2 separate regions of the Homo sapiens genome follow, and region 2 is linked to region 1. The links come from fine-mapping of genetic effects on gene expression. A gene starts in region 1. The other region holds a variant in brackets. All regions are shown on one strand. Distances are between the middles of the regions. Region 1 holds the start of RGS3 (regulator of G protein signaling 3). Region 2 overlaps RGS3 (regulator of G protein signaling 3).

What was found.
Region 2: its variant is fine-mapped to the expression of RGS3 in whole blood (TOPMed, PIP above 0.99).

What each region holds. Positions count from the first base shown.
Region 1 is chr9:113,457,739-113,467,902 of GRCh38, reverse strand. RGS3 (regulator of G protein signaling 3) reads right to left here and starts at 4,176. Exons shown (of 23, transcript NM_001394167.1): 1 at 4,022-4,176. The coding sequence starts at 4,100. RefSeq lists enhancers at 3,364-4,318, 4,319-5,273.
Region 2 is chr9:113,575,413-113,585,576 of GRCh38, reverse strand. It overlaps RGS3 (regulator of G protein signaling 3), which reads right to left. Exons shown (of 23, transcript NM_001394167.1): 18 at 1,150-2,127. Among named protein-coding and RNA genes, the nearest start is that of RGS3, 120 kb to the right of the region's middle. RefSeq lists enhancers at 3,100-3,608, 3,506-3,675, 3,836-3,885, 6,367-6,456. The variant T/C (reference allele first, on the strand shown) is at 5,915.

The DNA.
Region 1 (10,164 bases):
GTTTTTTTTACATAAGAAAAATTAGCCAGGCATGGTGGTGCACATCTGTAGTACCAGCTACTCAGGAGGCTGAAGTGGGAGGATCGCTTAAGCACAGGAGGTTGAGGCTGCATGGTCAAAGAGGAGCCATGATCATGCCACTGAACTCCAGCCTGGGCAACAAAACAAGACCCCATCCCCAAAAAAAGTTTGGGATTCAATGAACACTATCAAGAAAGTGAAAAAAACCCACAGATAGAGAGAAAATATTTGCAAATCATATATCGGTTAAGGAGCTTGCATCTAGAATATATAAAGAAATCTTACAACTCAATAATAACAAGACAAAAAGCCCAATTTTAAAATGAACAAAAGATCTGAATACATTCTTCTCCAAAGAAGATATATAAATAATGAGCACATGAAAAAATGTTCAACATCACGGGTCATCAGGAAAATGCAAATCGAAACTATAGTGAATATCAATTCACACCCACTAGGATAGCTAGAATTAAAAAGTCAGATAATAACAAGTGTTGGTAAGGAATGTGGAAAAACCAAAACCCATATACACAGCTGATGGGAACATAAAATGATACACCTACTTTGGAAAAGAGTTTGGTAGTTCCCTAAATAGTTAAACACAGAGTTACCATAGGACTCAGCAAATCTACTCCTAGGTATATACTGTGTGTATATGAAGAGAAATGAAAACATTTGTCCACACAAAAACTTGTTCACAAATGTTCATGGCAGTATTATTCATAATAGTCAAAAGGGAGAAACAGCCAAAATATTCATCACCAGATGAATAAATTTTTAAAATGTGGTATAGCCATACAATGAATACTACTCAGCCATAAAAATGAATGGAGTATGATATCTGCTACAACATGGATTAAACTTGAAAACATTATGCTAAGTGAAAGAAGTCAGTCATAAAAAAAAAAATACGATTCCATTTATATGAAATGTCCAGAACAGGCAAATCTACAGAGGGAGAGAATAGATTAGCAATTGCTTTGGGCTCGGGACAAGGGAGGACGGTACAAGCTAAAGAGCATAATGTCTCTTTTTGAGGGAATGAAAATGTTCTGAAATTGTGATAATAGTTACACATCTCTGTGAATATACTAAAAACCATTGAATTGTATGGTTTAAATGAGTGAATTGTATATATCTGAATTATATTTCAATAAAGCTGTTACAAGAAAAATCAGCAAATATCCTAATCAAAATAAAATATACAATCCTGGAGAAAAATATTATGTATACCTACAATGACTTCAAATTACATCATTTTTCACAATAAAGAAAAAAAAATCCCTCTAGAGTAGTTGGGTCCTAGCCTCAGCTTGCCTACTCCCTTCCCCTGAAGTAAGGCCACCTCCTCAGAACGCAGTGTCCTTCAATTAATGTCACTTGAACATACTCCTTTTGGGGGACAAGGGGTTGTGTTCATGTGTACACACAAATACATATATCATGCAGTACTCTCCCCGAAGGGAATTCTCATCAAAACAGTTTTGTCTCTTTATATTTCCATAGATGATTATGCTCCCTTTACATGTCTGTGCTCAGGAAACTACCAGCTAAGCAACATCTTCATCTGGTTCTACCAAGGCAAAGCTCACAGTAGAAGGCCAGGGGCTACCTACTTTGCTAAGGAAAGGCCAGTGAACTGAGAAAAACTTAGCCAAAACCTTCACAGTAAAAGTGGTCCCAATTGCTACCAAAACTGACTCTGAATCCATAGCTTCCAAACCTGGATGACAGTCTGAACGCTCTATGGCTTCTTAAGTGTTCATATTCTCAGGCTCCACCCCAGACCTATTAAACTAGAGTCTCCAGAAGAAGATTCTAGGAATCTGTGTATTTTTAACAGGCTCCCCACATGCTTCTGATATTTGGCTGGGTTTGGAAACCACTGATAGGAATCTTTGCTCATAAGCAGATCAGTGAAGATCACAGTGGATAAAGAAAATCAGCAGCCTGAAAGAGGGGCACCACGACAAATGGCACCCAGGGAAACAGAGCCAGTGCAGGAAACAGGAGAGAATTTCTCAAATGCTCTCATAAGCATCCTTAGAGAGATGTGAGAGGAGCCTGCACGAATAAGAGCAGGTGGCTTCCCACCCCACCCAGGCTCCTGTCTGCCTCCTGCACACTCAGGTCACAGTCACTTGTTCAAGCAGCAGCCTTCCCTGATACCCATCAGACTCAGCCCTGAGGCCATGGCTGGGCAGGAAGATCCACTCCCTGCTGGGCCTGAACCCTCCTCAGCTTCCCAGATCTGGCAGGCAGATTAATCTAATAGAAGAACATGGACCAATGCAAGGAAATATTCACATCAGGCCACTAAGGAAAACATATGGGTTACAAAATTGTCCATACAAACTTGATCTCAATTGTGTTGAAATTTGACCCCTAAATACACACAGGCACACACACACACACACACACACACACACACACACACACACAGAAATAGGTGTGGAAATAAGCCTGGGAGGATATAAATCAGAAAGTTAACAGTGGTCTCCCTGGGAAGTCAGATTACAAGTGATTTTCACTTTCTTCTTTTCACTAAGTTTTCAGCAGTAAACACATGTAACCATGATAATAAGGAGGAAAAAAGCAAACATATTTTTACTTTTTAATCAGGACACAGCTAAGGTAAGAGGGCCTCACAGCTCCCTGACACCCTTTCCTGATCACTCCTACCCCAGCCAATACAGATCATCCTGGAAACCACCCTTGTCTCACAGAGCCCTGCATCCCAATGGGGTTAGCAGGAATTGCCTCCTACGCTGGGGCATTAAGTGAGATAATGCAGGTAAAACACTTGGCATAAGGAATGGCAATGGTAAGTTCTCAACAAATGATGGCTAGTTAATTGCCCTTTATCGTCCACCAACTAGACCAGTGAATTCCTGCTGCCAGACGTCAGGCAATTTCAGAGGCCAAGCCACTGCTCTTCCATCATTCCCTCTACCCCTAAGGAAAAAAAGCAGGTTGTGGAAAACCAAATATGTTGAGCAGGAGTAAGCCTGAAAACAGAAGAGCCAGGAACCCCAGGGAGGGACCAAACTCCTTGGGCACTCTGTCTTTGAAAGCTGGGCAATGTCCAGTAATGTTTCAGTAACAGCCCCAACCTTTAGAAGGAAATTGTATGCAAGTTCAAACAAAAATGCGCTGGACAGGTCATCTCTGGAAAGCTTGAGCTCAGCTACGAACTCTGCCACTGGCTCATGGAAGATCTCTTGGTTTCAAGTCTTCACAGAGGAAAAATAACCCCTCTCCACAGAGAGTTGCAGGACCAGTGAGGAAATGAAGGGTTACCCTCAAGGGTAGGGTTGTTACCTTTACTATGGCTACCAGGAAGGCCAGGTTTGCCCAGACCTTTGGGCAGCTGCCGCCCAGCTGTTATTTGGGGGAACTCAGTCTGCTACTTAGGGGCTTGGGAGTGAAGCCTACTGTTCACTTCTTTCCACCTCAAACCCTGAGGCAGCCCTGGGACCCTCCTAAGGGATTGTTCTTTCTTGGAGGAGAGAATTCTCCCATCTCCACTGTGGCTCAGATACCCAACAAAGTCAAATTGCAGCCTCCCCACAAGGCAGCAGGGCCAAAGGGCCCAGCACCTGTCCGCTCCCTGAGCCAAAGGAAAGTGGGTGAATGAGATCTCCAGTTGCTATAACAAGACCTTGATTTAACCTGAGCTGCTTGCTAATGAGAAACTCCGTGGTGACAACCCAGGTCTCTGAAAGATTAACCAGAGCGTGATTATTCCAGCCAAGTGAGGCAGAACCAACCGCAGTTGGCACTCATGGCCGGGCAGCAGGTGGTGTCCAGCAGCTTGCTTGGACTGAGCCTGTGCCCTGAGCCCCTCCTGGGCAGTCACAGGAGAAAGGGGCCAGAGAAGGTGCCCCTAGATAGAAAGAGCACCTGCTCCCAGCCTCCCCTGTCACCACGAGGGGCTGCGTTTCTGGGCGCTGGGAGCAGGGTGAAGCAGCCCCTGCCGCCAGCCCCAGCGGGCACTTACCAAAGGTGGTGAGGTAGAAGGACAAGTCCGGGTGGGCACGCCGGCTCCCGAGGGAGACGCGGTGCAGGGAGCGCTCCATGGCGTCCCACTGCGACCCGGACAGGAGCGTCTGCAACCCGAGGCGGCTGTGTTGCTCCCCAGTAACCGGAGTCTCCAGGGCGGGAGGAGCGCGAGCGGGAGGTAGGGCTGCCCCAAGCGTTGGAACGGCCAGGGCGCGCCCGGCCCTGATTGGCCCGCGCGGGTTTGAATGGGGAGAGTTCCACCTGCCGGAGCAGAGCTGGGCCGGGGTGGGGGAGGCGGCGCCGCCGACCCGCGCTGAGCAGCGACGGCAGCCACCCAAGGAGCCAGCAGGACGGTGCGGCCACCCCGGGTATCCCGGCCCCAGCACCGCGCTCCCGGTTGGAAATGCCAGTCCCACGAGAAGGCCCAGTCCGGGGTGCCCACTCTGGGCAGGCTTGGCCTCCTCGTCCAGCTCTCCTAGACCAGCAATTAGTCGGGTTTATAACCTGCTTTGAAGCTCAGGCCTATAATCATTAGATCCAAGCAAAGGCAAAGGAGCACCCGATGGCCCAGGGCAGTGAGGTTTGGAAAAGTGTTCTCTGCGCTTGGACAGGTCGCCCCCCACCATGCTGCATCCTCTTCCCAAACCCTGCATCCTGGATCACTCTCTTGAGCCTCCTCTTGAACAAGTGCTGCCTGACACAGGTCCGGATGGGAGCAGCTTGCTCCAACCAACCTGATGGCCCCCCGTCCCACAGCCTGATGCCATCGGACAGCAGGACAGGCCCACAGCCTCTGAGAAAGAGGAACGCACAGGAAACGGAGTGGGGTGGGTGAATCCCCCAGCCTGGTGCGGGGAGGCAGAGCTGGAAGGTCAAACCCTGCTTTGCTGCTTTGTCAGCAAACATTTACAGGACACCTCCTCGTAGCAGTTTCACACCAAGACATCTGCTCTGCAAATCTCTGTTGCCACTGTGGGAAGGAAAGCTGTTAGTCTCGTGTAAATCTAAAAATGGGAAGTGTTGGTATTTGTCCCTGTTCCCCAGACTTCATCGCCAAGTGGATATTTGTGGTTCAGTGATCCACTCAAAAACAAGATGGGGAGATGCAAGACAGAAAGTGGAGAGAAGAGTTATGTGTTGAGTACCAGATGCCAGAGGCTGAGCTGAGCTGGGCAATTTACACACATCATCTCAGTTAATCTTCACGGTAAGTCTAATAAGTATTAGCCCCAATTTACCAGGAAGAAATCTGAACCTCAGGCAGAGAAGACAGGTGACATGCCCAAGGTTTGCAGAGCTAGGAATAGGCAGAGCTGAAATTTGAACCCAGGCCTGTCTGCCCCAAACGCCATTGTCCTATTCTTCCTTGGCCTCCACATCTGCCCCATGGCCAACAGCAGGTGGAAGGAGCAAACGCCACAGGGTCAGGTGGCCACCAGCGAGGAGCAGAAACTGCAGAAGGAGCCCTGAATCAGCAAACTGGTGATAAATCACATAAATGCCGTAGGATTGTTTGAATCCTGGCACTTCGTGAAGTCCTGCCCTGCTCTTTACTGCACCCCCCCACCCCACCCCACTCTCCCCCTCCAACCCCGGTTACACACACACATGGTGAACACTGCCTTTAACAAGAGCAGGTCCACTCTCCTAGCCTCAAGCCAGTGACAGATGGACTTACCTGCACCCTGGACTTTGGCATGCGTGATCCTCTTCCTGGCTGGAGAAGTTTGAGTCCACTCATCTCTTCTGGGCAGAGCGATATCAGGGCTTAGCCACTCCATCCAGCCAGGGAATATGGGCAAGCTCAGGCTCAAGCCACAGGATGTAGAGAGGACACTGAGCACAGAGACGTGGCAGACCTGCAGGAGCAAGATGGGAGCATGAGTTAGCCATGGCCTGAAGATGCTCCATGCAAGGTGTGTTCACTCCCAGTAGGAACTAGAAAGCATGGTGTTCAGGAAACAGCAAAGGAAGGCCCACAGGGAAAAGGGAAGGTGATGTGCCTGAGATGATAGTCACCTCTTCACAACTTCGCCAGGGACCACTGTAGAGCCTCCTCCCAAAGGGGAGACTATCTTGGGCTCCAGAGGCTGTGAGCAACCTGCAGGTACAACACTCAGGACGGTGAGATCCAGAAAGAAAATTGGGCAAAGGTGTGCTGTCTGAATGTGACCTAGGAGAGAAAAGACCGAGGCCCACACTGGGCACTTACACCCGGTAATGGGAACAAAGATTCTACTGCTTTGTAGGTCCCCTCCTGACTCCTGCCCCACTCTGCAGCTAACATATTCAGTTGGAAGATTGCAAGGCCAGCCTGATCCTGAGCTGGCCCCTCTGATGGTATCACCTTCACCACCACCAGTAAGGCTCCTTTACTCAGTAGCGTGCTGGAAGCTTCCTTTTCCTAAAAGGACAGGTCGGTCACCCTTTCCTCAAGAGATGGAGGAGAGAGGTGAGTGGGAGCTTGGGCAGGGCACTTCAGGAGAGACTGGCCCTATTAACCCACACTGCTGTCCAAAAGCAACATCCAGAAAGGCTCATGATCATGGCCCTGCTTTCCCCAAGAAGGCAGGAGAGTTGGACCAAGCCTGGCTTTCTCACATGTCCTGAGCATTCTAGCACCCCCTGGGGTTCTTCCACCTCACACATGTGCACACACACTCCACACATACATTATCATACCACACACGATAACAATCATACACTCTGCACACATACATACACATACCTCAACATATCCCATGTACACACACAGTCACATCATATGCACATATACACATACATAAACACACTACATACACACCTCACATACATATACAAACACACCCCACACATTATATATGCATCCTATGCATATATATAAGCACACATCACACTGACACATGCACACAAAACACATACACTACATATATACCATATGCATATATACAGATTGATTTGAAGCACTTAATAAAGTATCGAGCAATGATTTTAGGCATTTTTTTAAAGACTGACTATATCTGGAATAATAAGGAATACTTGAGTTTGAAAAGAAGGGACTAAATGGATTTATTTGGGTGCATTTTCACAATAACTCTCAAAGAATCTTAGTGACTTTAAGATATCATCTAGCCCAATAATAACCAAGAAAACTTAGAAAAATAATAACAAAGGGAACTTGTACTACCAGATGTTAAATGGTGTTAAATAATATAAAACTAAAAAGAAAAGACAGATCGATGGAATTAGAGTAGAAAGTTCAAGGGGATAATTTATTTAGAAAATAACAAAGATTTAAAGTGTTTTAACTAAAAATTCATTTCAAAAAGTTAGAAGAGGAATAAGCTAATTCAGAAGAAAAAAAAATTTTTTTTTTTTTGGAGACGGAGTCTCACTCTGTCACTCAGGCTGGAGTGCAGTGGCGCAATCTCGGCTCACTGAAAGCTCCACCTCCTGGGTTCACGCCATTCTCCTGCCTCAGCACCCCCCGAGTAGCTGGGACTACAGGCACCCGCCAACACGCCCGGCTAATTTTTTGTATTTTTAGTAGAGACGGGGTTTTACCTGTTAGCCAGGATGGTCTCGATCTCCTGACCTTGCGATCTGCCCATCTCAACCTCCCAAAGTGCTGGGATTACAGGCATGAGCCACTGCGCCTGGCCAGGAGAAAATTTTAAAAGGAAATAAGGTTAAAGGTGAAATTTATCCTCAAAAAAATAAACTTCAACAATAAGACCAAAGCCTTGTCTCTGAAAAGTTCAGTAAAATAGACCTCTGGCAAAATGTATACAGAAAACCAGAAATAAGCAAGTTTAGGGAAGAGAAAGCCAAGATATACAGGTGATTTTTTTTTTTTTTTTTGAGAGAGTTTCTCTCTTGTTGCCCAGGCTGGAGTGCAGTGGTGCGATCTCTGCTCACTGCAACCTCCGCCTCCCAAGGTTCAAGCAATTCTCCTGCCTCAGCCTTCCGAGTAGCTGAGATTACAGGTGTACACTACCATGCCCGGCTAATTTTTTGTATTTTTAGTAGAAAGGTGGTTTCACCATGTTAGCCAGGCTGGTCTCAAACTCCTGACCTCAGGTGATCTGCCCACCTCAGCCTCCCAAAGTGCTGGGACTACAGGTGTGAGCCACTGAGCCCGGCCTCTTTTTTTTTATTTTTTTTGAAACAGAATCTCGCTCTGTCACCCAGGCTGCAGTGCAATGGCACAATCTCAGCTCACTCCCAGGTTCAAGCGATTCTCATACCTCAGCCTCCCAAGTAGCTGAGACTACAGGCACGCGCCACCACACCTAGCTAATTTTTGTATTTTTAGTAGAGACAGGTTTTCACCATGTTGGCCAGGATGGTTTCGAACTCCTGACCTCAAGTGAACCGTACACCTTGGCCTCCCACAGCGCTGGGATTATAGGCGTGAACCACCGTGCTGGCTAATATTTTAAATTATAAGAGAAAACCACTGCAACCTTATTGTATAAATTTGAAAATCTGAAAGGAACTGGATGATTTTCTAGAAAGTATTAATTAGTAAAATTGATAAAAAGTTTGAAATTTTTAATAGATCACTAACTATAGATAAAATAGAAAAGGAAACCAAAACTCTATTCGACAAAATTATAGAAAATCCAGATAGTTTTAAGAGGCTAATTCTATAAGATCTTCAAGAAACAGATGATGCTAATGTAGTTTTAACTATTTCAGAACATAGGAAAAAACAAAGATGTGTCAGCGCTAGGTAGAAAGCTAGACAAAGACAAAAACCAAGTAAGGTTAGAAACAGAAAACTATAGACCAAAGGTAAAAGATAAAAGTAAGAATAGAAGTTAATTAAATAGAAAATATACAATAGAGGCTGGATGCAGTGGCTCATGCCTGTCATCCCAACACTTTGGGAGACCAAGATGGATGGATCACCTGAGGTCAGGAGTTCAAGACCAGCCTGATCAATATGGTGAAACCCATGTTTGCTAAAAATACAAAAGATAGTCAGGTGTGGTGGCATGCGCCTGTAGTCCTAGCTACTCGGGAGACTGAGGCATGAGAATCACTTGAACCCGGGAGGCAGAGGTTGCAGTGGGCCAAGATAATGCCACTGTGCTCCAGCCTGGACAACAGAGCAAGACTCTGTCTCAAAAAAAGAAAAAAGAAAGAAAATATACAATAGAGCAGATCTATTAAAATGTGGCGAAACTAGGCCAACATTCTCCCAGTTTTGTCACTTTTTTTTAAAGAAAAGCCAGCAATCTTAAATAATCCATGTAATATTTCCCAATTTGTTAATATTAATAACTCATTCAAAATGTTTTAAAATGTTATGAAGGCTAAATAGAATACATCTATACCCCACAGCTAGTTTGAAATTTCTACATAGCCCAATCTGACTTATGAATATAAATGTAAAAATACTAATAAAATACAAGCAAATCAAATCCAACAGTATATTCATGATCAAGTTGGTATTTATCCTAGAGATGCAAAAATGGTTCAAATTTAGTGAACATATTAGTGCAGGGGTTGGCAAACTATGGCCTACCAACCAAATCTGGCTGGCTGCCTGTTTTTGTACAACAGGTGAGCTAAGGATGCATTTTACATTTTCAAATGGTTGGGTGAAAATTTTTAAAGTTAAAGACTTTTCTATGGCCAGAAAAATGTAAAATGTTTTTAACTAAAAAAATGAATTTGGCCAGGCACAGTGGCTCACGCCTGTAATCCCAGGACTTTGGGAGGCCAAGGCAGGCGGATCGCTTGAGGTCAGGAGTTTGAGACCAGCCTGAGCAACATGGTGAAACCCCGTCTCTACTGACTCGATCATGCATACACTGTGGGATTTGATTTGCTAATATTTTATTAGTATTTTTACATCTATAGGCATCAGTCAAATTGGTCTATGAAGAGATTTTTACCTTTGACCTTTTGTCTATAGTTTCCTGTTTCTAACCTTATTTGGTTTTTGTCTCTGTCTAGCTTCCTACCTAGCACTGACAAATCTTCATTTTTTTCCTGGGTTCTGAAATAGCCAAAATTGCATTGGCATCATCTGTTTCTTGAAGGTCTTATAGAAATTGCCTCAAAAGCTACCTGGGTTTTCTAGTAACCAAGGAAATGAAAAAGAAAAAAAAATCTGGCCCACCATTTGCTTTCAGAAAGTTCAAGCATTTG
Region 2 (10,164 bases), 120 kb before region 1:
TTTCCCTGATGGCTTTAGGCCCTGGGGTCTGTCCTCCTGAAGTTCTAGATCTCTGAGTCAGTTGTGCTCCATGGGCACTGAGCACCCCTACTCACCTAGCCTCACACCAACACCTTGCACTGGCTGTTGCATTTCAAGAGAAGGAGTGGGGCCCAGCATTCCCTGAGGGCCGCCTCTCAAGCGGCTAGTGTTATCAGGCACCAGCCTCTTCCATTCATCCTCAACCATTCTGGGATGTGAGTGCTATTAACCCCTACTTTTCAGAGAAGAAAACTATGGCTCAGAGGAGTTGAGTGACTCAACCAAAGCCACATAGTAAGAAACAGAGCCCAGACCCAAACTAGCTGGTAGGCTTCAAGATCATGGCGCAATCTGTTCACTGTTAGGCCACTTTCAAGGCTCACACAGTTAACTTATTTCTCTCAGGTTGAGACCAGCCTCACACACTTCTGTGGCTCCTGCCATGTTGCAGAGCGCAGGGCCTGGTACACAGCAGGAAATCCATAAATACTTATTCATCTACATATAAATATTCACGAGAGGCAAACGGTGTGGTGGTTGGTTAAGAGCACTGGCCCTGGAACCAGATTCTAATTCTAGTTCAGACACTGATACACTGTGTAACCTGGAGCAAGTTAGATAACCTCTCTTTGCCTCGGTTTCCTCTGCTGTAAAATGGGCACAAAAATACTATCTACTTCAAAGGGCTGTTGTGAGAGTTAATGAGTTAATGTAAACTGCTTAGGATAATGTGGACACGGAATAAATGTGTGTTGTCATTGTGACTGGCTGATGGATTTCTAGTCTGGCTAGGCTGTAACTCTATTTCTCCAGCTACTATCTCAGATCTTTTAAATCCAAATACACAATGGCCTGGGCTAAGCTACACCTGCTCTGCTTTCTGTGGGGACCAGTGGAGCTATAAGAACACAGCATCTGGAATCCTAAAGTCATGTGTTTAAGTCCATGCTCTGCCTTCTTGGTCCCATTGGGCCTCAGTTTTATCTTCTGTCCAACAGGTGGAAAGTTCGCTGGGAGGCTGCCAGGATAGTGGGGGTGGAACATGGTGACTTCTCATTCCCTGCAGCCCCTGGGCCAGCCCTCCCCACATTGCATGTATCCTTCTCCCTCCCCCTTTAGCTTTCTCACCTTCCTGTGTCCTGTGAAGAAGAGGGAAAGGTGGTGCATGGAGCCACCATTGCGGCCCAGCTCTTTCTTGAGGGTGCTGGGCGAAGGCATGCCCCAGGTGGAGGCGGCGCCCTCACCGTCTGAGCAGTGCAAGGTGGTGTCGGAGGCAAAGCAGGGCCCTCGGGGCTCCTGCAGCAGGCTGCCCTCGCTGTGCGTCCGGCGCCGCAGCGAGTTCTGCACACGCAGTGAGAGGCCACCCTCAGCCCCCTGGCCCGTCTCGATCATGCTGCTGCGCTTGGCCTCACTGCGCTCTCCGTAGTTGTCATCGCTGGTGTCCTCATCCTCGTCCTCCTCCCCTTCCTCCCCCTCCTCCACCTCCTCGGCCTCTTCTGCATCCTCCTCATCTCCCGAGCAGCCCTGCTCTGCCCCTGCCTTCTGGCTGTAGGTGCTATCCAGCCGGACCTCAGGGATCACGAAGGCTGGCCTGGGGGCCGCAGGTGGGTCCCCAGTAGCTGCTAGTAGGTCCCCGGAGCTCATGGTGTCCTCAGTAAGGGCCTTGGCTGGCAGGGAGACCTGGCTAGGAGGCAGATCTTGACAGGGTGGAAGGTCCCGGGTGGGGGATTCCTGGATGGCAGGGAGGTCTTTGGTGAGTAGAGGGTCCTGGTGAGGCAGGGGTTCTTGACCAGCAGGTAGGTCCTGGCAGGGTGAGAGGTCTTGGGCTGGAGGGGGTTCCTGGCATGGTGGCACATCCTTGCTGGGCGGAGCATCTGGGCCTGGAGGGGATCCTTCAGAGGTAGCTGAGTCTTTGCTGGACAGTGGTTCTTGGCTGGGAGCGGGTTCCTGCCCAGAAGGGGAGTCCTTGTTGGGTGGAAGGTCTTGTCCTGGAGGAAGCTCCTGGCCAGGAGAGGGCTCCTTGCTGGGTGGGGAATCCTCGGCACCAGGCCCCTTCCCTTCCTCCAAGGCCATCTCCCTCTTCTCATCTGCCTCCGTCTCAAACATCTGGGAAACAAAAAGAAAACAAGAACAGTTCAGAAGAGGAGGCTCCAAGATGCCAGACACCATGCATGAGCTGACATGAAATCAGGCAGTGGCCTGAACCCCGGGCCCCCAGTCTGAAAGCTGAGGTGCCAGATGGAACCCCCAAAGCCCCTTTGACTTAGCTGGGTAACAATTCTCACCCTGTCTTCTTGCTTGAACTTTCTGCTCCATCAAAAACACAGCTGGTCATTTATAGGAGAAGAGGGAGAGATAACCACTATCTATCTAGCTCCTGCTTTGGCAGGTGCCAGGCCAGCTTGACCCCACTCTCTTATGTGGCCTTCCCGACAACCCTATAAAAGAAGCATCACTGTCCCCATTTTACAGAAAAGGAAACAGGGTCAAAGTTGCCTCTGGGGATAAAGGAGAACCAGGCAGTCTCTGCTTATGGACCAGAACCAAGCCAGGGCAGTCACTGAACCCAGCCCAGGGTGTCTTCTACCTGAACTCAAGTTTAAAAAATCCTAATGAGTCATTCAAACAAGAATGTGCTCTGAACGCTTAAGTATCTTTTTGAAACTATTAAACTGGAATGAAACCGGAACTTTAAAATATTGTCCACACCTGGACTCACCAGATGTCGCAGACACACGGAACCTCCCTGAAGAATCACCCACCCAGGGATTTTTAAACTGCTTGGAGGAAGCTCAGGGATTCCTCAAAAAACACAGCATCTCCTGCCTCACACACAACCCTCGGGATCCTAGGGGGTTTTGCTGAGTTTCGACAGTAGATTTCATGTGCAAAGAGAAAAACATTTCTCTTAATGAAAGTCTGAATAGCAGCTATGTCACCAGAAGATTGGGGCCCCGAGAAAGTCAGGAGTGTCCATGGTGCCACAACCACACAGGGAGGCAGTTCTCAAGTCTGGGGTGGGCCCCTCCCAGTCAAGGACCAGGAATGCCGGAGCTGGAACTATTTATTTAGAGCCCAGGTTCTGTCTTCAAGAAGCCATAGCTGCTGAGAACTAATGAAAGGGAAAGACCTCACCCATACTCGGGAACTGAACAGATGCTTGGGAATGTGTGCACCTGCGGGCACACGCGCACACTGGCAGAAAACTTCAGGGGTAAGTACCCCCAGAACATGGGTTAAGAGCTCTCATTGTAGAAATCATTAATGTCCATTTGATGGATGAGAAAACTGAGCCCAAAGGCCGGTGACTTACCCACTATTGTACAGCTGCCCTGACAGCCAAAAGCCATGCTCGAAGCTGAGAAGTCTTTGAAGCCCTGGGGAGTCTGTAATGGTGAAGCCCCACAGCTGGGAGTCAGTGTTCAGCCATGGCTTGGGGCAGCTGCAGGCTGCTGCACACACGTGTCAGGGGTCACGCTGGCATCTGGGAGCACAGATGTGAGCGGATGTGAAAGCTCGGCACGGGTAAGAGCCACAGCCTGGGAGTGTGAAAGTGAAAGTGGAGCCCTGCAGAGCAGAGAAGGTGGCTGGGCAAGGGAGGGGAGGCCTTGGAGGACTCTAGCGTGATCTGGCCAAGGTCGGGAAGGGCACGCCTTAGGCTATGGCTCACAGGCCAAAGACAGGTGCCTGCTGATGCTGTGGCCTTCTTGCCCTGGAAATCCTGCCTGCAGCTCAGAGGTGACTCCACACAAGGGCCCTCTCAGACCTCATAGCCTCAGACTCTGAAACAACAGCGATCCGAAATCCCCACTGCATAGACAGAAAGGCTGAGGCCCAGAGAGGAGCAAGGGGCAACCTAGAATCACACAGAGGTGTCAGGTAGAGCCAGTCACCAACCTTTAGGCCTCAAGGTGTCCACGTATGAAATGGGATAACCAGCATGCCTGAGTAACAGATCAGGAGCGTATGCTGGAAAAGCTGGAAAGCTCGAAAGCTCCTACAGAAGATGGTGGTGTTGGAGTTAGTGCTTTAAAAAGCATTGATCTAGAGGGAAATTCTGAAGTTAAGGACCTCAACCAGAGGCACGTGTTTCCCACATACACCAAATTTTGCCAAACACCAGAGTCAGTGTTGGCAATTGTAATGTCAGGGCCTCCAGTCCAGAATTCTCATCTGGAAACTAAGGGCTGTGCTTCAGTCCTATCAGGCTGTTCCCAGGTGGACAGAAAGACCCTCCATTGGGTAGACAGGAAGGCTGAGGGCCCAGTCTAGACAGTGACTTAGTGACTTGCCCAAAGCCACCCTGCACAAATTAGGGGCTAGGCTGGGGCCAGAGTCCAGGCCTTCTGGCCCTGTTCTTCTCAAGCCCACTTCTGATCTCTGTCCCCATGAACAAACCAGTCCCCAGCCCATCGCCCCACCCACCAGGGAGCATTCTCCATCAGGAGAAACAAACTGCCCTGCAGCCAGCTCCCTGGGGCCCCTCAGTCCTATCACCCTACCACATGGCCAGACCTCCCCCCGACCCACCCCCTGGCCCAGCCACCTGCCTCTGATAGTCCTTGGGGAAAGACGGAAGGAAGCAGCAACCGGGTGCCCTCAGGGCCTGGCACGGAGTGGCACAGAGTGGCACTGAGTGGGGAGCGGGCCGCATTTCCCCTTTCCTGGGTGGTGAGGGTGGGGCCCAGGCCTGTCCCAGTGGTGACTGTCAGTCAGAGCCCGCCCACCCCTTGGGGAAAGTGCAGCAACAAACCCAAAACCAGAAATGCAAGTCAGCCTGCCTCTGCCAACCCTGTTCTAAATCGAGGCCAAACCAAACAAAGCCAGGAGGGGAAGTGCCACTCAGGCAGGGGTACTGCCCCCAGAGGGCACCTACCCAGAGAGATCAGCCGAGAAACTAACCAAGATGGAAGGGTTCTCAGAGGGCCCAGTGGTTATGTGCTCAGATACCCGAGCCAGGCTGATTTTGATCCCAATGGGGCCACTTTTTAGCTGTGCAACTCTGGCCAAGCCTCTCAACACCTCAGAGCCTCCGTTTCCTCATCTGGAATTGAGCCCAGTGATATCATACTGGACTCACAGGACTATTTGAGTCTCCTCACAGTGCCTGGCCCTGGAAAAGCTTTTGATACAATGGGAGCTATCAGTGGTCTTATTTTAGAGATAAGAAACCTGGGGTCCCAGAGGGTAAAGGAATTACCTAAGAATGAGAGGCTGATGCAGGATTAGAACTCATATCTCCTGCCCAGGGTCTCTCCCTGTTTCCTTGGAGCCTTACACACAAGTGTTTGGGGACCTCAGAGGGCTGTAGAAGGAGGAGGAACAGCCTGGAGTGCTGCCTGAGGCCCCGCACCTGGGTGCATCCCACATCAGCAGATGCTGGCGAACAGGGCCCAGAGCTCATGGTTCTTTCTGTGCTCCCAGGCAGGTCTGTATGAACAGGGACTGCGTGCAGGTTTGGTAAGGCCCCTGTTCTTGGGAGAGCTGGGGTGGGAAGTGGTTTGACGGGAGCTCCGGAGCAATTATAGGAAACCCGAGAAACCCAGGGGTGGGAGGGTGGCAAGTGTAGGAGAAAATTAGGGCAGGAGGGGAGGCAAAGATGAGGGGGAGGTTGCAGAACACATGGTGGGCATGGGATTTGCCCTGTGAGCAACGAAATGCCACAGGCAGAGCTGTGCTGTGTCAAAGCTGCTCTGGGGAATGTGGGCAGGATGTGTGGATGGCAGGGAGGACTGGGGCACGCATACATTCATGCATTCTCCAAGCACTGAGGTAGGTACTAGGAGGACGGCAGGGAACAAGTCAGACACAATCTCTGCCCTCAGTTAAGTAGAAAAAACAGAGGTTAGACAACTAGTTTGAAGGAGCATGGGGACTGCTCTGATAGAGGAAG[T/C]ACAGGCAGCTGGGGACCCAGTGAGACAGCTGTTGCAACAGCTGAAGTAACAAGAATCCAGCCAGGGCGCCCCAGGAAGACCAGCTTGCTCACCCAGGGCCTTGGGTCTAGAGTGCTGGAAGCCACTGCCCCACCCTCCCAAGGTGGGGGTCTGTGTCTTTCCCATCCATCACTTCTTTGGCTTGGCTGGACCAGGTTAATTCTGCCCATGTCTCATCTGCTGTAAGCACACAGGAAATGAACCAGGCCCTCTAAATGGAGTCACTGTTTAGGACCTAATCAAATCCTCTCCCAAATCCAATCCAGAGCTCAGAATAGGCTAAGGAGGGATGGCAGCTATGACACCCAGAGTTCACACTCATACCAGCTTTGGCTCCTGGGCCCCAGATGCCCACCGGATGTTGGGTTGAGGGTAGTGGTGGGCTGCTGAAAGTGACTTGTCCAACATCACACAGCTACTCACTGAGCAGCCAGGTTTGCTGACCCAGGGACAACCTGCAGCTCTCACTCCGATGATTCATCACAGCCACCACGGATGCCGGGCTCTGCATCTGCCCTCGAAAACCACTTCCTGCACTGGGGGGGTGTAAACTGGGGTTTGCCTCTGTCTCAGGGTGGCCCTTAACAGCCAGGATTTTACTGACAGAGCACTGGACATGCAGCCAGAAGACCTGGACTGGAATCTTCACTCCATCATTTGCTAGCTGTGTGATCCCAAGCTACCCCACTCCAAGCTTGGTTTTCTCTGCCATGAAAGTGGGTGAGGATGCCTGCTGCTTCCTGTGCCAGAGACCTAAGGGGACCAAGTGAGAAAGGGCAGGAAGGCACTCTGTGAACTGTAAAGTCCTTTGAGAAAGGGAGAGGCTGTTAGAATTCCTGCCCTGCCTTGGACCCCCAGGCTTTCAAGATGGGCTGTTCCTTCAAGCTTGGCATGCTCTGGATCCCTAGCCTCAGGTCCCTGACTCAATGCTAGCTTCCAGGAACCTTGATGGCTCAGCTAACACTTAGCTCTCCTGGCTCAGCGTCAGCCCAGCTCCTCCAGGTCTGGCCTCTTGACCACCCAGAGGCTGACACCCCCAGTCCTTCCTCCGCCACCAGCTCAGAGACCCTCCAGGCCATACTCCTCTCCCCTCTACCTCCACTGTCTCCAACACAGCAGGTTTGGCAAAATTCAGGAGGATGGAGGCGGTACTTACATTAGGGGGAGCTCCAGATACTAACTTCACACTTACTTGCTGGGTGACCTTTGGCTTAACCTTTCTGTGCCTCAGTTTCCTTAGCCATAACATAGGATTTCTAGAATCTCCTCACAATGTTGTTAGAGGAATAAATGAGCTAATGAGTATCCAGAGCTCAGCACCATGAGGGCACCCATGAGCACTCAATAAACGATAGCCATGGTCACTCCAGCACAGCGTGGCCTTAACATCTCCCTCCCTGAATTTCACCCCTTCTCCACCCTCTCATGGGCCTGTCTGCCTGTCCATCAGGACCTGCTGCAGGGCCCCTCTCATCACAGTCCTGTCCACTCCCTTGGGAACCCACCCACTCCCCAGGCCACAATCGCTATCTGCACCATCTGGCCACTGATGACTCGCAGTCCACTCTGCCAGCCCTGACCGCTTTCCTGAGTTGAGATGCCACAGGCAAGTATTCAACAAATCCTCATGGAATAGTTCTGCATCCAGACACTGTTCTAGGCTCTGTGCATAAAGGAAGGAATAAGAAAGACATGATCCTTGTCCTTGTGGAGCCTACGAACTAGAGAGGAAGGAGGGATATTGACCAAGTCATCACTGCCATAAACACAGGATAAACAGAAACCAAGATCTGCAGTGTGAAGGAAAACCCTCGGGTGCTGTGAGAGAGTCCAGGGGAGTGTTGGGAAGGCCGCCCTGTGGAATGGCTGGAGACCGAAATCTGCTCAAGGGGCAGGGCGGGGCTCACTAGGGGAGGAAGCAGCATAGGCCAAAGCCCCGGGCCAGGAAGAGCCTTAGCATGCTGCTGACACAGAGGACAGCTGTGTGGCTGCATCCCAGGGACATGGATGGAGACCTCCTTCTGCATATCCCATCAGTACCCCCAACTCTACAAGCCCTACACTGAATGTGTGATCTCCCCGCAAGTCCATCATTCCTCCTCTAATGGTCCCTGTATCAATGAAGCCACCACCAGTTGCCCAAACCAGGGAATTGGCCATCATTTTCTCCTTTTCCTTCGTGACCACCCCCATGGTCAATCCTCAAATCCTGATCATCACTTATACAACTTCAAGGATCTTTTTACTAGGGAGGTTGGCAATAAGTAGGACAAAGTATATTGGAACTCTCTGTACTTTGCACTAATTTCTAAAGCTAATTTCTAAAAAATAAAAGTTGAGGCCAGGCACGGTGGCTCAAGCCTGTAATCCCAGCACTTTGGGAGGTCAAGACGGGTGGATCACCTCAGGTCAGGAGTTCGAGACCAGCCTGGCCAATATGGTAAAACCCTGTCTCTACTAAAAATACGAGAATTAGCCAGGCAACATGGCGCGCACCTGTAATCCCAGCTACTTGGGAGTCTGAGGCAGGAGAATTGCTTGAATCCAGGAAGCGGAGGTTGCAGTGAGCCGAGATTGCACCACTGCACTCCAGCCTGGGCAATAGAGTGAGACTCTGTCTCAAAAGTAAAAAATCAAAAAATTAAAAAGTTGATTAATCTTTTTTAAAAAGAATGTTTCTACTCTCTCCATGTCCACTGCTGCCACTTCCCTCTAGACCACTGTCATCCCCCACCAGGATGATGTGGGGCTCACAGTGGCGGTGCAGACCCCACTGGCCATTCTCTGTGCTATGTCAGGGGAGCTGCCTCCATGCAAACCTCAACTTGTCACTCCTCTGCTTAAAACGTTGCTGTGGCTGGCTCCCCAATACCTCTCAGATAAAGTCCAAATTCTGTAGCCCTGGAAGACCCTGGGCTCTGTCTCCCTGTAGCCTCACGTCTGACCACTCCCCACCTGAAGTGTTTGAATGAATAAATGAATGAAAGAACAATCGCTGGGTGCGGTGGCTCACGCCTGTAATCCCAGCACTTTGGGAGGCCAAGAAGGGCAGATCACAAGGTCAGGAGATCGAGACCATACTGGCCAACATGGTGAAACCCCGTCTCTACCAAAAATACAAAAATTAGCTGGACGTGGTGGTGGGCGCCTGTAATCCTAGCTACTCGGGAGGCTGAGGCAGGAGAATGGCTTGAACCCCAGAGGCGGAGGTTGCAGTGAGCCAAGATCACGTCACTGCACTCCAGCCTGGTGACAGAGCAAGACTCTGTCTCAAAAAAAAAAAAAGAAAGAACAATCCAGTGAACTTCACAGGACCATCTAGACTCTTAGCCTCAAAGTGCAGCCCAAGAGCCAGCAGCAGCATCACCCAGGAGCTTATATAAAATACACACTCATTTTTTTGTTTTTGTTTTTGTTTTTTTTGAGATGGAGTCTCGCTCTGTCGCCCAGGCTGGAGTGCAGTGGCGTGATCTCAGCTCATTGCAAGCTCCGCCTCCCGGGTTCACGCCATTCTCCTGCCTCAGCCCCCCAAGTAGCTGGGACTACAGGCACCTGCCACCACGCCCGGCTAATTTTTTGTATTTTTAGTAGAGACGGGGTTTCACCATGTTAGCCAGGATGGTCTCGATCTCCTGACCTCATAAAATACACATTCGTAAACCTCAATTCACACCCACTGGATCGGAACCTGCACTTTAATAGGATCCCAGGAGATTCATTTGCACATTAAAGTTTGAAAAACACCGACCTAGACTATTGGTTCTTAACGGAGAAGTACACTTTAGAATCACCTGAGGAGTATCTTAAAAATGCCTGTCTGGACCCAATCTAAGACCTACTGCATCACAGTCCCTAGGAGTAAGGCCCAGGCCTTTTTACTTCTTTCTGACTGACGAGACAATTCTGGAGAGTGGCGTCAGGTAACAGGCAAGGTGACTGTCTGTTACGTGAGGCCCAGAGAAGGGAAGTGATAAGGCCAAGGTCATACAACAGAATCAGCACTAAAATCCAGCCCAGAACCTCGCCCAGGACCAGTTCCAACACATAGAACCCTCTCTATAGTGGGGAGCCTGTGCAGAAGAGGCATGACCTTGGAGCAGGACGGGGGAGGTGGCAAGTTCCCTGGAGGCAGCTGCCCATTCACGTTCCCTAAACAGAGGCCCCACTGCAGGAGGAGAGAGGGGCAAAGGAAGAATTCGACCACAGACTG